2 separate regions of the Homo sapiens genome follow, and region 1 is linked to region 2. The links come from fine-mapping of genetic effects on gene expression. Tissue or cell type: CD4 T cells. Region 2 holds a variant in brackets; the other region holds the start of a gene. All regions are shown on one strand. Distances are between the middles of the regions.

Region 1 (8,103 bases), 810 kb before region 2:
AAAGGCCTAAGATAATGAAAGCCACCTTTAGAAGTACTTAAGTACCTGTTCCATCACTTCCAAAAGGGCCTCTGAGCAGCAAGTTGCAGAAATAATTCACAGCTTTGACTCCTTCGGCACTTTAGGGCAAACAATACTTTCCATGGCCTAGTTATCACCTAATTTAACTCTTTCTACCTTTTAAGATCAATGGATATATAACAGTTTTATCAGTAAGATAACCAAATATCAAACCAAAGTTAACAAATTTAAAACAAGACAACCTCTAATACAGAACTTGTCACCAGATTGTCATGATGGACTTGGAGGGGAAGGTATCTGAAACTATATTCTGAAATCTAAGCAAAAAAATCCACAGTTCCTCCAAGAGTTTGTCTCAAAAGGCAAAGAACCAATTTTCTAAAAGCAGCAAAGAAAAGCTTCAGAAGAGAATTTTGTATACTTTAGCCACAGGAACACAACTTAAGGTCTAAAACCACAAAAAAGCTCACCACCCTCCCCCAAGCCCCTTCTTAAAACTCACTTTTTGCTACGTTCTTCATGGCCGTTGGCACTGCTCAACTTGTTCTCATCCTAAGCAGGGTTGATAGAAGAACATCATGAGGACGAAGTGGTAACATTTCAAGTTGTCAAAGGGTAAAGGGAACAGGAATAAGAAAATACAAAACAATTTTAAAACTAATTATTTACTTATAGTTTAACATGGAAGGCTATAAAAAAATTTAGATGGGTATGTGTTTAACCACTTTGTTGCTTACATTTAAGTCATCAAGATACAAAAATAAAAAAATTTTCCATATTAACATGTTAAATTTTACTTTCTTATATAGTTTAGATATTAAAAGTTATCCAGATTTACAATGTTGAAGTGGTTAAATATAATTTCCATAAAACATGAAGTCCTGTTTTGAGTTTTATTCCATGTGCTATGGTCCCTTTGGTCAGTACCATGGCTCTATTTCTGCCTAAGCCCCAAGTGGCCATGCTAGCAGCCAGCCACTATCGATTTCCTGTGACCGATGCCATTCCTGAGATCTTCGCCCATTTCCGTTGGAGGGTTGGGACTGTAAGAGCTTGATGCCACCTCTGTCACACATCTCGCCCTGAAGCAAACAGGGATTCACACTGCTTTAGTAATGTTGACTCCCAAGAACCCAAGAAAGTCAATTAATAATCCACCAAGTCCAGCCTAAACATTTCCTACTTCCATACCTGTTTACATGGAATTACATCCATGTTAAAAAAAACTAAGACACAAGAATCTTAACATTAAAACAGAAAGTAGCTCTTCAAGAGTCTAAGCATTACAAAATTACATACACTATTTAAATCTATCAAGAATTCATCCAAATTGGTACCACATGGTCGTGCTATACAATCCAAAACAAATGTATTATTTTTAAAAGGTTTAGTGAAATGTTTATTTTAAAGTTTGATTACATCAGCTATAGGAGTAAAGTGCTAACTTACAAAGCTTACAGTTTGTGACACCAGTGATAATGCATGCATACTGCTATTTTCACCACCAACTGGTGAAACAATGAAAAGACAGTTTACTTTTACTGAGATACCGAAATGAGTCAAAGACTATATTAGCCAATATAATTCCTTTGTTTTTAGTGTGAAATACTATGGTAGGGCCTAATTAAAAATAAAAACAATATGGAGAACAGTAAAACAGTCATCAAGTGACTCTAAGCTTGTATTTACTCTAAGCTTGTATTAAGCTTGTATTGACTCTACTGCCTCTTGTATTTTTTTTTTTTAATTTCTATTCAGGGATCCAAGAATTTTAGTAATTATTAACTGAGCAGCAGATTGCCACTGGACTGTTTTAAGATTTACTATCACCAGTCTTACATAGATACATAAATTTTAAAATCTCACCCATTTCTTCTTATAAGACTGTTAGAAGATTTAACTTGCCACAGACTGGTCATGCTTTGTTATTCTTGGACCCCTGCTTTTTCCCAAACCACTACATTCACCTTTTTGCTATACCAAACTGGAGGTGGTAATTCTTAGTTGAGTCATTTTACCTAGGGGACCACGGTACAGCGATAAGTCACTCAATTACTACCTTATGATTGACAGTTCACACTGGAATCAAAGGTGAATTCATGGGAGTAGAGGTGAGATATCGTTAGGCAAGTCTACAAAGAGAGATAGATGGGCATTTATTCATCACGCTGAAGTGAAACTACTGCACAATATTATTACATCAATAGCATATATTTACTTTTGTAAGTTACACGTAATGCATCTCTGATAAGATAAATCAAGAGGGCTCCGGGGAGGTTAGTTTACATTTCAGCAGTAGTTTCGTGAATAATGCTAAATTAAGAAATATATAAACCTCACCGACATGTTTTTTCTCACCTTCTTGTAAGGAGCCTCAAGCATTGCTTCAATATCAATATCGTCTGCCATTTTCTCTAAACGCCTAGGAAGAGAACAAGACAATTTCTTGAGTAAACATTTCTCTTACAATGTGAAACAAGTTTCACTCTTGTTGCCTATATCGTCTAACATTTTCTCTAAACGCCTAGGAAAAGAACAAGACGATTCCGTGAGTAAACATTTTTCTTTTTTTTTTTTTTTTTTTTTGAGACGGAGTTTCGCTCTAGTTGCCCAGGCTGAAGTGCAGTAGCGCGATCTCGGCTCACTGCAAGCTCCGCCTCCCAGGTTCCAGCGATCCTACCACCTCACCTCCCGAATAGCTGGGATCACAGGCGCCTGCCACCACGCCCGGCTAATTTTTGTATTTTTGGTAGAGACGGGGTTTCACCATGTTGATGAGGTTGGTCTCGAACTCCTAACCTCAAGTGATCCGCCTGCCTCTGCCTCCCAAACTGCTGGGATTACAGGCGTGAGCCACCGCGCCCGGCCTGGTAAACGTTTTTCAAATCGACTGAATTTTTCTTCTCAGCCGACACACTCGAAAACTTAAGAAAAACCTCCAAAAGCCCTACAATTAATGACTAAAGTGACATGCACTTTAACCAGGTTTGGCTTACGTAAGTAAATCCAAAACGCCTCTTACACGAAACACACGAAAATGAAGACTTCAATATCCAATATTTAAAACTCTGCTGTCAACTCCAAAAACAGAAACTGGGAGACCCGAACGAGAGCGCCTCTTTCCGGGCAAAAACCCGCGCTGCCATTTTAGGGGCAAAGAGAAACTCCCTCCATTGGGAGGGGTTATGAGCCAAGGCAGCGTTCAACTGGCGCCATGTTGGGAGGTCGCGGCCGGCCCAGGCCTCGAAGGAGACAGGTCACCATTCTACCGCGGCCTCTCGGGGGTCCCTACCGCCCCAAGAATCCAGACTATACCCGACTGGAAAATAAGGGCGCGGTCACTGAAACAGGGCCGATTTCTCGAAAACCACCCCCCACCCCGGTCGCTAAAGACCTCCAAAAGCGCCCCTCAGCCCAAAATGGAGCCAAACCTCGAGAAAGCTGAGATAATACGCGGGTCCGCAACGCCCCGTACCTGTTCCGGCCTTCGGGCGCCTGTGGTGCTCGTGTTCGGGAAGAGATTGCTGCTGCTGCTGCTGCTGCTGCCGCCGCCGCCGCTTCTGTTGCTACTGTTAAGCCCCTAGGCCCAGGCCGCGGAACCGCCCAGCCCGAATATCGGGTTCCAAGGACGGCTAGGCCCGAGAGAATCTAAAAAAAACAATGGAATTAGAGAAGCCCACGCGGGAGAGCAGGACGGCGGCTTCGGCAGCTCAGGATCCACCCCTGCGACAGCGTCGACAAGCTCCCTGAAATGGCGGCCGCTGCTTCCCTGTACTCACATTCACCAGCACACATACACACACACAAACACACGGGGCCTCACAGAGCCCTCAGCACGGGCTCTCGCGAGAAGCTGCCCCAAGCTCCAAATTTGAGCGGCCGAAGTATCGCGAGACCTAAGTATGGCTCCGGCGACCGTAGCCCAATCTCGCGCAATGATTGCGCCACAGATATTCCCATCCCCCATTCAGTGAGGCGCCTTTCACTCCCCCTCCGCGTAAGCACCCAAATCTCGCGAGACAGAGCGGGTCTCTAGGGCAAAGACAGTTGGTAGGCTGCCTGTCAATCTTTCAGAGAGCTCTTCGCTGAGTGGAGCTCAGCGGTCACCTCCCCCTCGTGGCGCCTCCTCACGGCCATCTGAAGATTCCTCCGGCACAGCCGATCGCCCCCGCTCCGGCCTCCCACACAGATGGCTGTCAAGGTCGCCATAAGGCAACCTAGTCCTTATGGCGATAGGATAAAACGGCCATATTCAGATTATCCGCTGAGGGTGGAGAGGAAGTGGAAAAGTGTATCAGAAGGCCAGAAGAAGAGATCTTTAGGGGTAGGGGGAGAGGGGGAGATAATAAAAATAGATTTCCCTGTCATTTGGAGCCAATGGCGCGGCCTCCACTGTCGAGCTTTGAAACAACCTTGGAAATAGTGGAGAAAAGCAAAAAAAAGGTGGAAAAAATAAACTCTTGCTTCCCTTGGCATGGGATCAGTTTTGTGCCCCGAATTTAATCAGCTCTTGTGTCAGGGTTGCTACCGTTCCTTCAAAAATGTTCCCCTTCCTGAATATTACTGGACGATTTGGTGAAAAAATAAGACACCCCCCCAACAAAAAAAAAAAGGCCCCCTTCCCCCTGGGACCTGGCTCCTCTCCCCTGAAGTCTTCTAGATGCCAGGTAATTAGAGTATGAATTAGCCATTTGTTCTTTGGTCAGTACTGTGTGAGGTTTCCTCCTAGATGCTGGGAAAAAAAACTGGAAAGAAGTCTTCAAAGCAAAAATCTTACCCTCTAATCTTAACAGTCTAATGATTGAGGGCAGAAAAGATTGGAAATGAGACGCCTTGATTAGTGTAACTAGCTGCTGCAACACTGTGTGACCTTGGACAAGCAAATTAACCTCTCAGAGGGGATCTTTCATTTCCTGATTTAAAAGAGGACGTACTTAGTAGCTAGTCTAAGCTACTTGAGACTGAGGAAGGCAGGTAATGCTCAGTACTGAATTTTTAGAGGTTAGCAGGGCATGTCTGCCCAAGTGGACCCTCAGTAAATTAATGAATGAAGGCTCAGAAGGGCTATAGTGAAGATTAAATGATATAATGTCTGTAAAACGCCTGGTAAATATTTGATCTTCAAAACAGCTAACTTCTGTTTCTGCTAAACAAAATTATTTAGAGCAAATATAGATGTTAAGTGGTTTTGCCTCTCAGGTTAACTTTACACACAGGTTAGGATTTATCTTAGAGGATTATTAATAACAGTTATTTTGTAGTTAGAATACTCCCTTAATCCTTTTTCTGAAAATTCAGATCCTCTTTTTATTTTATTTCTGAGACAGTCTCGCTCTGGAGGCTGGGCGCAGTGGCTCATGCATCTAATCCCAGCACTTTGGGAGGCCGACGCGGGTGGACCGCCTGAGGTCAGGAGTTCAAGACCTGACCAACATGGCGAAACCCTGTCTCTACTAAAAATAAAAAAAAAACTAGGTGGCAGGCGCCTGCAATTCCCAGCTACTCGGGAGGCTGAGGCAGGAGAATCACTTGAACCTGGGAGGCAGAGGTTGCAGTGAGCTGAGATCATGCCATTGCACTCCAGCCTGGGTGACAGAGATCGAGACTCCATCTCAAAAAAAAAAGAAAGAAAAAGAAAGAAAAGAAAACTGTCACAGGAAATTGAAGCATAATATGTCAGAAATAAAGCAAGCTAACCTTTGCTATCTCTTCCTGCCCCTCGGTAATTCCAGTATTATGACTAGTGCAAAATGAAAGCATGAAGATGGCACTTGGTTTTTCTTGTTTGTTTAGGAACATGACATGACAGAATTTGACCTTAACCGCTAGACTTCTTGTTTGGGAAGAGGAAGGATTTAAGCTCTAAGTCGCTTGATGATTTAAGGTCCCTTAAATAGTTTTCTGCTCAAGGACCATCAGAGGCAATATGGCAACTTAGCAGATCATCAAGAAAAGCCGTTTGGAAAAATCAAGTTTCTGAAACAAGTATTTTTTATGTTTAAAAGAAAATATCCCCAGGCATGGCGGCTCATGGCCTGTTATCCCAGCACTTTGAGAGGCCAAGGCAGGAGGATTGCTTGAGTCCAGGAGTTTGAGACCAGCCTGGACAATATAGCAAGACCCTGTCTCTACAAAAAATTTAAAATTAGCCAGACGTGGTGATGCATGTCTGTAGTTCCAACTACTCAGGAGGCTGAGATGGGAGGATAGCTTGGGCCCAGGACTTCAAGACTGCAGTCAGCTAGAATCACGTGCCACTTCACCCCAGCCTGGGCTGCAGAGCAAGACCCTGTCTCTTAACACAAAAGAAAATATCACGAACATAAGATGCTTCTCATTCACTTTACAAAACTTCACTAACTCTGGTTCATGAACTTTCTATGTAAATTAATTCCCCTTTCATCATTTTGCTTTCAAAAGATGGAGGAATAGAGCTTGAAATAGAGCCAAAAAGGTAATGAATATACTTAGAGAATTTGGCTGAAAACTAAATGTATTTTACCAATGTGGATTTTTAATTTTTTAATTATTAAGGGTACATTTTAAATGTATATGTTTATCAGATACATGTGGTTTGGTTTTGTTTTGTTTTTTGTCCCCAACAATCTACAGCAAGTAGAATTGTTTCGTTTTTTAATTGAGACAGGGTCTCACACTGTCCCACAGGCTGAAGTGCAGTGGCAACATCATAGATTACTGTAACCTTGCATTCCTGGGCTCAAGCAATCCTCCCAGCTCAGCCTCCCAATTAGCTAGAAAAACAAGTGCACATCACCATGCCCAGCTTAATTTTTTAAAAATTTTTTGGGCTGGGTGTGATGACTTACTCCTATAATCCCAGCACTTTGGGAGGCCGAGATAGGTGGATCACCTGAGATTGAGGGTTTGCAACCAGGCTGACCAACATAAAGAAACCCCGTCTCTACTAAAAATACAAAATTAGCCAGGCGTGGTGGCGCATGCCTGTAATCCCATCTATTTGGGAGGCTGGGGCAGGAGAATCACTTGAACCTGAGAGGCGGAGGTTGCAGTGAGCCGAGATCACGCCATTGCACTCCAGCCTGGGCAACAAGAGCGAAACTCTTTCTCAAAAAAAAAATTTTTTTTTGTAGAGATTTGGGCTTCAAATGTGATGTTTTGATAAAGGCATATTATGTGTAATAATCAAATCAGAGTAATTGGGGTAATCCATCACCTCAAGCATTTAACATTTCTTTTCTTTTTTTTTTTTTTTGAGACAGAGTTTCACTCTTGTTGCCCAGGCTGGAGTGCAATGGCGCGTTCTTGGCTCACGCTCTCTCTCTCTCTCTATATATATATATGTGTGTGTGTGTGTGTGTGCATGTGTGTATATATATGTATATATATATATTTTTTTTTTTTTCGAGATGGAGTCTCGCTCTGTCGCCCAAGTTGGAGTGCAATGGCACAATCTCAGCTCACTGCAACCTCCGCCTCCCAGGTTCAAGCAATTCTCCTGCGTCAGCCTCCCAAGTAGCTGGGATTACAGGAGCATGCCACCACACCCGGCTAATTTTTTGTATTTTTGGTAGAGATGGGGTTTCATCATGTTACCCAGGCTGGTCTCGAACTCCTGACCTCAAGGGAATTGCCTGCCTCGGCCTCCCAAAGTGCTGGGATTATAGGCGTGAGCCACCTCGCCCGGCCTTTTTCTTTCTTGAAACAGTGTCACTTTGTCACCCATGCTAGAGTACAGCGGCAAAATCACAGCTTACTGCAGCCTTGACCTCCTGAGCTCAAGAGATCCTCCCATCTCAGCCTCCCAAGTAGCTGGGACTACAAGCACATGCCACCAGGCCCAGGTAATTTTAGTATTTTTTGTAGAGTTGGGTTTTTGCCATGTTGTCCAGGCTGGTCCCCAACTCCTGGCTCAAGGGATCCTCTCCTCTATGCCTCCTTAAGTGCTGGGATTACAGGCGTGAGCCAGCATGCCTGACCCTTTTTTTTTCCCCATATCACTAGGACAATGGGAAACTTAAGCCCATTTCATATAGATGTAATTAATTTTAACACTCATGTGACCTTTGCCTGATTTAGGCAGATGAAATTGTATCTCCCCAC
Region 2 (8,104 bases):
ACTTAGTCCATTCAACAGGGAAACTGGGCCGGGCGCGGTGGCTCACGCCTGTAATCCCAGCACTTTGGGAGGCCAAGGCGGGCGGATCAATAGGTCAGGAGATCGAGACCATCCTGGCTAACACGGTGAAACCCTGACTCTACTAAAAATACCAAAAATTAGCCGAGCGTGGTGGCGGGCGCCTGTAGTCCCAGCTACTTGGGAGGCTGAGGCAGGAGAATGGCGTGAACCCGGAAAGCGGAGGTTGCAGTGAGCCGAGATCGCCCCACTGCACTCCAGCCTGGGCAACAGAGCGAGACTCCATCTCAAAAAAAAAAAAAAAAACAGGGAAACTGAAGCACAAAGCAGGTCCACCACAGGGTCTGAACGTAGACAGGCTGACTCCACAGTGGGCCTGTCTTAGGCAGATTTGTGCACTGGGCTGCCAGGTATCATTTCATTTAAAGAAAGGGGTCAGCTGGCCAGGCGCTGTGGCTCACGCCTGTAATCCCAGCATTTTGGGAGGCCAAGGCGGGCGGATCACGAGGTCAGAAGATCGAGATCATCCTGGCTAACATGGTGAAACCCCGTCTCTACTAAAAATACAAAAATTAGCTGGGCGTGGTGGCGGGCGCCAGCTACTCGGGAGGCTGAGGCAGGAGAATGGTGTGAACCTGGGAGGCGGAGTTTGCAGTGAGCCAAGATCACGCCACTGCACTCCAGCCTGGGCGACAGAGCAAGACTCCGTCTCAAAACAGAAAGAAAGGAAAGAAAGAGGTCAGCATCTAAATGAAAGTGTGAACTGCAGGCTGCCCACTGCACAGATGGGGAAACTGAGGCCTAGAGGGGCGGCCAGACCAGCTCCCCTCCTTCAGAGGTCACCCATCTCAGGCTCTCATAGCCTCTCTGGTCCCAGTGACTTCCTCAGGATCAGGACCTTAGAACTAACAGGGTACAAAAATCAAGTCCAATTCTCTACTGCAGATGGGGAAACACAGGCCCAGAGGCAAGGCCTCCACAGACCATGCCCCAACCCACGGGCCTGCCCCAACATCCCTCCCAAAGTGCTGGCCACAGCCAGCCACTCTCAGCCCAGTTCCCGCGTACCCCTCATGCCGAGTGACAGCATCCAGACCAGACACTGCCTGGGGGAGGGAGAGTCCAGGACCAGAGGACACAGCCCCGTGACAGTCAAGCCTCGAGCTTTGAGGCCAGAGAGTCAGTCCCTGGTAGGGCCCTGTGCACTTTCCTCTTCCTGTGAAATGGGGCCATGACCCTGACATTTCCCCACGAGGCACTGAGCAGGAGAACCAGGCAAACCTGAGTGGGAGAACTGACAGCACGCTGCCCCCGGCCCTGAGCACCAAACCTCTCCCCGCTTCTGGCCAGGCTCGCTTGAAGGCTCCCTCCCCCAGGAGGTCACCTGGCAGGAAGTAAACTCCAGGGTTCTTTTTTTTTCCCCCCGAGACAAAATCTCACTCTGTTGCCCAGGCTGGAGTGGCACCATCTCGGCTCACTGCAACCTCCGTCTCCCAGGTTCAAGAGATTCTCCTGCCTCAGCCTCCCCAGTAGCTGGGATTACAGACGTGCGCCACCATGCCCGGCTAATTTTTGTATTTTTAGTAGAGACAGGGTTTCGCCATGTTGGCCAGGCTGGTCTCAAACTCCAGAGCCCATCTTGGCCTCCCAAAGTACTGGGATTACAGGTGTGAGCTACCACGCCTGGCCAACTCCAGGGTTCTTATCTGGGGCTTTCCCAGCTTCGTGGAAGGACTGAGGCCTGGTGAGAGAAGGGGCTGGCCTTAAGTACCCCAGTGTCCTGGCGTCACAGCTCCTCTTGGGCCTCAGCTTCCATGGCCATCCCAGGGGGACACAGCAGGGTATGTGAGGCTCAGGGACATGAAAACTTCCTATTTCCAAGGCCACACCCTGCACCCAGGCCCCTGAACCCCTGAGACTTCATGACAGCCCTGGGTGTCCACCCAGAAAAACATGCACTGTGTTTGTAGCTCATATCCGTGGGTCTGCAGGTGAGTCACACCCTTATCTTCAAGTTAAAAACAAGAGCAGCAAATATAATAATAAGAAGAAGCCCTGCAGGTATTATCTTAAATCTCAAAGCAATCCTATTGAACAGATACAATTATTCCCACTTTACAAACAAGGAAACTGAGGCTCAGAGAGGTTAAGTAATTTACCCAAGGTCACACAGCTACCAAGTAGTGGGGCTGCAATAGAAACCCAGCAGTTGATTCCAGTCCATAGGCCTGTGCCAGTCATTGTTATGAGCCTTTTGCAACTACTGTCTTCACAATTCCCCTAAGAGATGGGGAAAACCAAGGTGCACAGCTGGGATCCAAACCCAGGCCTGTCTGACAGCAAAGCACTGTGTCTGGACTTTGGAGTTAGGCTGCCTGGGTTCAAATGCCAGGTCTACTCAAGTCTCCTCCTTACTTGCTGTCTGACCCTGGACAAGTCACCTGGCCTCTCTGTGCCTCAGCTTCCATACCTGTGAAGTGGGTAAGAATGCTGACTTCACAGGGTGGTGAAAGTTAAATGCAATAAGGCACGTGGTCGACCAGCCACAGCGAGCAGTCTGCAGAGGGTTGTTCTTATTACACTTTAGTGAGCACTGCCGGCTGCTGACATCCAGGCCACAGGAGGAAACTGGTGGGAGCAGCCAGGGACTCCGGGCGCCCACTGCTGTGGCTGCGCTAGAGCCATGCTTTCCAGTTCACAAAACCCACTACCTCCCGTCTCACACGGAGCGGTGAAGGGCAGGGGTGGGGGACGGGGGTGCAAGTTGTCCCAGCTGGGGACAGAGGGCCCAGGACCACAGGCTGGAACACCCCACCTGCCACAGGGAAGAACCCCACAGACGAATACCTGGAGGGCATGATGAGCGAGGCCCCGGGGCCCATCAACTTCACCATGTTCCTCACCATGTTTGGGGAGAAGCTGAACGGCACGGACCCCGAGGATGTGATTCGCAACGCCTTTGCCTGCTTCGACGAGGAAGCCTCAGGTCCGTGGCGCCCCCTACCACCACTCTGCATGCAAGTGGAACAGGGCCCAGGCATTCAGTGCCTCTGCCCCTAAGGGCCAGAACAGACATCACCCATCTCCCAGGTTCTGTCACCAGAACTATAAAAGCCAGGCCACCTCCTTATTGTCGCCGCAAAGGCTAGGCCAGAACAGCCCATGCCCCAAGACTCCTGCCTTCGTGATCTCCCCCGCTGGCCCAATGCACATTCTCCATCTGTTTTAGACCTTTCCAGAAATCAAACCATTTCATGCCTTTCTTGCCAAGAAGGTATAGAAACTGGCCCC[C/G]CTCCTCGGATCTCCTAACGGATATTCCATCCCTCAGCTCATTTTTCCCAGGGACATGTCAGGGTGATGATGGCCATGGTAACATGGCCATGGGCCCGCACGGGCCTGACTACCTTCACGGTCCCTCACTGCAATGGCATACGTTCATCCCTGTTTTCTAGATTAAACAGGCACACGGAGGTTAAGGACCTTGCCCAAAGTCACATAGCTAGGGAGAATGGGAATCAGCACTGCAACTCAGGCAGTGGAACTCCAGAGCTCACGCTTAAAACAGGGCACACCCAACACCATCTGTGTGCACAGCCTCAAGTTCCCCAAGTGACACCTCGGAGACAGTCCCACTGCACAACTCCTCCCCTCAGGACCCTGGCACCCCTTCACGTGGGATCCGACACCCCTTCACGTGCACCCCCACACCCCTCCTGCCACGTCCTCATTCCTCAGACTGACCAGAGACTAAGATTGTATCTTCCCAGCCCCTCTAGGTCTGCAAGAGCTGCCAGGGGGCTGAGGGATGGGGCTGCTGTGTATGTCTCAGCCCAAGTTCCTGCTCTCACCCACCCTGCCCCTGCCCGCAGGTTTCATCCATGAGGACCACCTCCGGGAGCTGCTCACCACCATGGGTGACCGCTTCACAGATGAGGAAGTGGACGAGATGTACCGGGAGGCACCCATTGATAAGAAAGGCAACTTCAACTACGTGGAGTTCACCCGCATCCTCAAACATGGCGCCAAGGATAAAGACGACTAGGCCACCCCAGCCCCCTGACACCCCAGCCCCCGCCAGTCACCCCTCCCCGCACACACCCGTCCATACCAGCTCCCTGCCCATGACCCTCGCTCAGGGATCCCCCTTTGAGGGGTTAGGGTCCCAGTTCCCAGTGGAAGAAACAGGCCAGGAGAAGTGCGTGCCGAGCTGAGGCAGATGTTCCCACAGTGACCCCAGAGCCCTGGGCTATAGTCTCTGACCCCTCCAAGGAAAGACCACCTTCTGGGGACATGGGCTGGAGGGCAGGACCTAGAGGCACCAAGGGAAGGCCCCATTCCGGGGCTGTTCCCCGAGGAGGAAGGGAAGGGGCTCTGTGTGCCCCCCAGGAGGAAGAGGCCCTGAGTCCTGGGATCAGACACCCCTTCACGTGTATCCCCACACAAATGCAAGCTCACCAAGGTCCCCTCTCAGTCCCCTTCCCTACACCCTGACCGGCCACTGCCGCACACCCACCCAGAGCACGCCACCCGCCATGGGAGTGTGCTCAGGAGTCGCGGGCAGCGTGGACATCTGTCCCAGAGGGGGCAGAATCTCCAATAGAGGACTGAGCACTGCTTCTGGTCTGTGTGTCTGTGGCTGGGGTGAAGTAAGGGGACCCCGGGCCTGAAACCCTCTCCCACCTTCTCCTGCCATCTCCAGTTACTGCCCTGCTCCTCCCACCCTGGCCCAGGGAAGGACTGGGTGTCCTCCGGCCATATGGTCCCTGAAGCCTCTAGGGACCAGAGTCCCTAGTAAGTGGGCTCTGTGCTCAGCTGAGACCAGCAGGGGACAGGGGACGGAGGGAATGGGCCTCATGGCCTTCTCAGGGCTTGTGGGAAAGGGAGGACCATGGGAATCACCACAGCCAATCCCGTGGAGGGTTCCAGGCCTCTTGGGGGGCAGAGGTCAGGCCACACAGCCCTCAGGACTAAAGCTCCGGGTTCCAGAAGAACAGGGAGGCTCCAACAGTGATGAGGCAGGCGTCCCAGCAGCTCAGGGTTGGAGGTGGGAATGAGGGGTTTCCCAGCCCCAGGCAGGTGGAGGGCGAGTTCAGCCCCAGGACCAACAGCATGGGGGCCACAGCTTTCCATGTCCCTGTGTACGCAGGGCAGGCAGGGCCGGGACCCCTGCTACTGGTGGATGATGGGGACACTGATGGCAGTGCCTGGGGCCTAAGAGGGGCAGAAAGAGCGCTGAATGACTGAGCAGAGAGTCCAGAGGGGCATGGACTGCCTGGGTCACCCAATAGGCCTAGGGAAGAGTGAGGGCCGGACCCACCCCACCTGACCCCAGCGAGTGGACCCAGCTTGGTCCTGAGGCCTTCTCCAGAGGTCACCCAGCGCAGGCAGCCGCAGCACTCAGCAAAGGTCCCAGATCAGGGCCAAGGGGGAGCTGAGCACCAGGGGACCCTGTGCCTGACCAGGAGGCCCTAACCTCCTGCAGGCCTCAACGCCAGGCCCTGCTCAGAGCTCGGCTGAAACTCCTCATCCTGGCTCCAAACAGAGGCCCAAAAGTCCCTGGTATCAACTCCAGAAGGGGCGAGACCCGAACAAGTTCCAAACCAGGCCCAAATAGTATCCCAAACTCAGTCCCAAACACATTCTCACCCCCGGCAGCAGGCTGCAGGCCTCCAGCTACACACACGGCCCTGGGCAACTCTCAGTCTGGCCACCCATTCGATGCTGCCAGCCCCAAGGGTGTGGGAGGGGGGTCTCAGAGTGTCCCAGGGTACTGGCCACACATGCCCGACACCAGGGTCATAAGGTCCTCTCAGCAGAGCCACTGCAGCACCAAAGGCATTTCTGGAAGGAGGCAAGGACGCGTCATCTAGATGTCAAGCCCCAGCGTGCGATTCTGTCACAGTTCACCCCACCTTCACCCCGAGACGGAAGACGGAAGAGCTTCGCACACAGGCGGGAAGAGGTCAGGACCAGTCCAGCCTCACTGGCTTCAGAACTGGCCTGGGGGCTACCTTGACCCACAGGAAGGGAAGAGGAACGTGCTCTGGGCAGGGCAAGGCAGGACCTGCAGCACCCACAGACCAGCAGTAAAGGACCCCCGGAACTTTCCAAGTCTAGCACAAAACCCAGAAGCCACAAAGGAAAATACTGGCAGATTTAAATGCATGAAGTCAACATTCTTTTTGTAGAGCTAAAGAAACCATAAGCAAAATTAAAAGCCAAATGCATTCTGGGAGGAAATACCTGCAGCATATTTAACAAAACAAGAGTTAACACTAATCTATATAAAGCTTCAGTAATTGAATCAGAAAAAGACAACGCCGTAGGAAAAAAATGGTAACATGAAAAGGAATCTCAGAAGAAATGCATATACTTATTTTTTTCTTTTTTTTTTGAGACAGAGTCTCGCTCTTTCTCCCAGGCTGGAGTGCAGTGGCGTGATCTCGGCTCACTGCAACCTCCGCCTCCCGGGTTCAAGTGATTCTCCTGCCTCAACCTCCCAAGTAGCTGGGACTACAGGTGTGCGCCACCACGCCCAGCTAATTTTTGTATATTTAGTAGAGACAGGGTTTCACCATGTTCGCCAGATGGTCTCCATCTCTTGACCTTGTGATCCACCCACCTTAGCCTCCCAAAGTGCTGGGATTACAGGGGTGGGCCACCACGCCCGGCCAAAATACATACACTTAATAAGAACATTTTAAATACTCACCAAATACATTTTTAAGTGCTCAACATCATTGTAAAACTGTAAAATTTTCTATTTTTTCCTAGTATTTGTCTAGCTTTTTCAGACTGGGTCTTTCTGTTGCTCAGGCTGGAGTGCAGTGGTGTGATCATAGGTCCCTGCAGCCTAGAACTCCTGGGCTCAAGCAATTCTCCCACCTCAGCCTCCTGAGCAGCTGCTACTACAGACCTGTGCCACCACGCCTGACTAATTTTTTATTTTTTGTAGAGAGAGGATCTTGCTATGTTGCCCAGGCTGGTGTCAAACTCCTGGGCTCAAGCAATCCTCCCACCTTGGCCTCTCAAAGTGGTGAGATTACAAGTGTGAACCACCACACCTGGCCTTAATTTTTTAATTTTTGTGGTTTTTCTCTTTTGAGACAGAGTTTCACTCTTGTTGCCCATGCTGGAGTGCAATGGCACGATCTCAGCTCACGGCAACCTCCCAGGTTCAAGCGATTCTCCTGCCTCAGCCTCCCGAGTAGCTGGGATCACAGGCAGCCGCCACCACGCCTGGATAACTTTTTGTATTTTTAGTAGAGAGGGGGTTTCACTATGTTGGCCAGGCTGGTCTCGAACTCCTGACATCAGGTGATCCACCTGCCTTGGCCTCCCAAAGTGCTAGGATTACAGGCATGTGCCACTGCACCTAGCCAATTTTTAAATTTTTGGTAGAGATGGGGTCTCGCTTTGTTGCCTGGGCTGGCCTCAAACTCTTGGCCTCAAGTGATCCTTCTGCCTCAGCCTCCCAAGTAGCTAAGACTACAAACACATACCACCACACCTGACAGAGTCCTTTTTTTAAATTCCTCCAAAGGCTAGCACTTTTAAAACATTAGAAATTCCATTTATTTTCTGAAAATTTTTGTGTTTCCTTATCTTTCTGGCAGCCTCATTAGACCTTATAATAGAATCAAAATGAATCTTAAACTTTTTTTTTTGAGACTCAGTTTCACTCTGTCACCCAGAATGGAGTACAGTGGTGTGATCTCAGTTCACTGCAACCTCCGCCTCCCAAGTTCAAGTGATTCTCCTGCCTCAGCTCCCCAAGTAGCTGGGATTACAGGCACGCACCACCATGTTCAGCTAATTTTGTATTTTTAGTAGAGCTGGGGTTTCACCATGTTGGTCAGGCTGGCCTTGAACTCCTGACCTCAGGTGATCTACCCACCTCTGCCTCCCAAAGTGCTTGGGATTACAGGCGTGAGCCACAGCAACCGGCCTAGATCTTAAAATTTAAGAGACATTATAATTTAATTTGATATACTATGGTGGTAGAAAAACATTTCAAACTCATATAGATACAGAAACTTGGAAGCTTCAGTTCTACAGTCTTTCATACATCAAGTTAAACCAAAAA

Which allele goes with the higher level. Positions count from the first base shown, and alleles are read on the strand shown. Sizes are in standard deviations (SD) of each study's normalised expression.
For the expression in CD4 T cells of the gene that starts at base 3,816 in region 1, G is the low allele of the variant in region 2 and C is the other (large effect, 1.4 SD a copy in Kasela 2017).

The links. PIP is the estimated chance that this variant, and not a neighbour inherited with it, causes the effect.
Region 1: it holds the start of RBM39, and the variant in region 2 is fine-mapped to the expression of RBM39 in CD4 T cells (Kasela 2017, PIP 0.95).

Annotation. Positions count from the first base shown.
Region 1 is chr20:35,738,445-35,746,547 of GRCh38, forward strand. RBM39 (RNA binding motif protein 39) reads right to left here and starts at 3,816. Exons shown (of 17, transcript NM_184234.3): 1 at 3,497-3,816; 2 at 2,380-2,443; 3 at 524-573. The coding sequence starts at 2,430. RefSeq lists a silencer at 3,196-3,295 and enhancers at 3,556-3,705, 3,719-4,404, 3,766-3,985, 4,156-4,255.
Region 2 is chr20:36,545,190-36,553,293 of GRCh38, forward strand. It overlaps MYL9 (myosin light chain 9), which reads left to right. Exons shown (of 4, transcript NM_006097.5): 3 at 2,843-3,004; 4 at 3,888-6,258. The coding sequence ends at 4,060. All of the region lies in intron 2 of DLGAP4-AS1 (DLGAP4 antisense RNA 1), which reads right to left. Among named protein-coding and RNA genes, the nearest start is that of MYL9, 7.7 kb to the left of the region's middle. RefSeq lists an enhancer at 2,367-3,295. The variant C/G (reference allele first, on the strand shown) is at 3,310.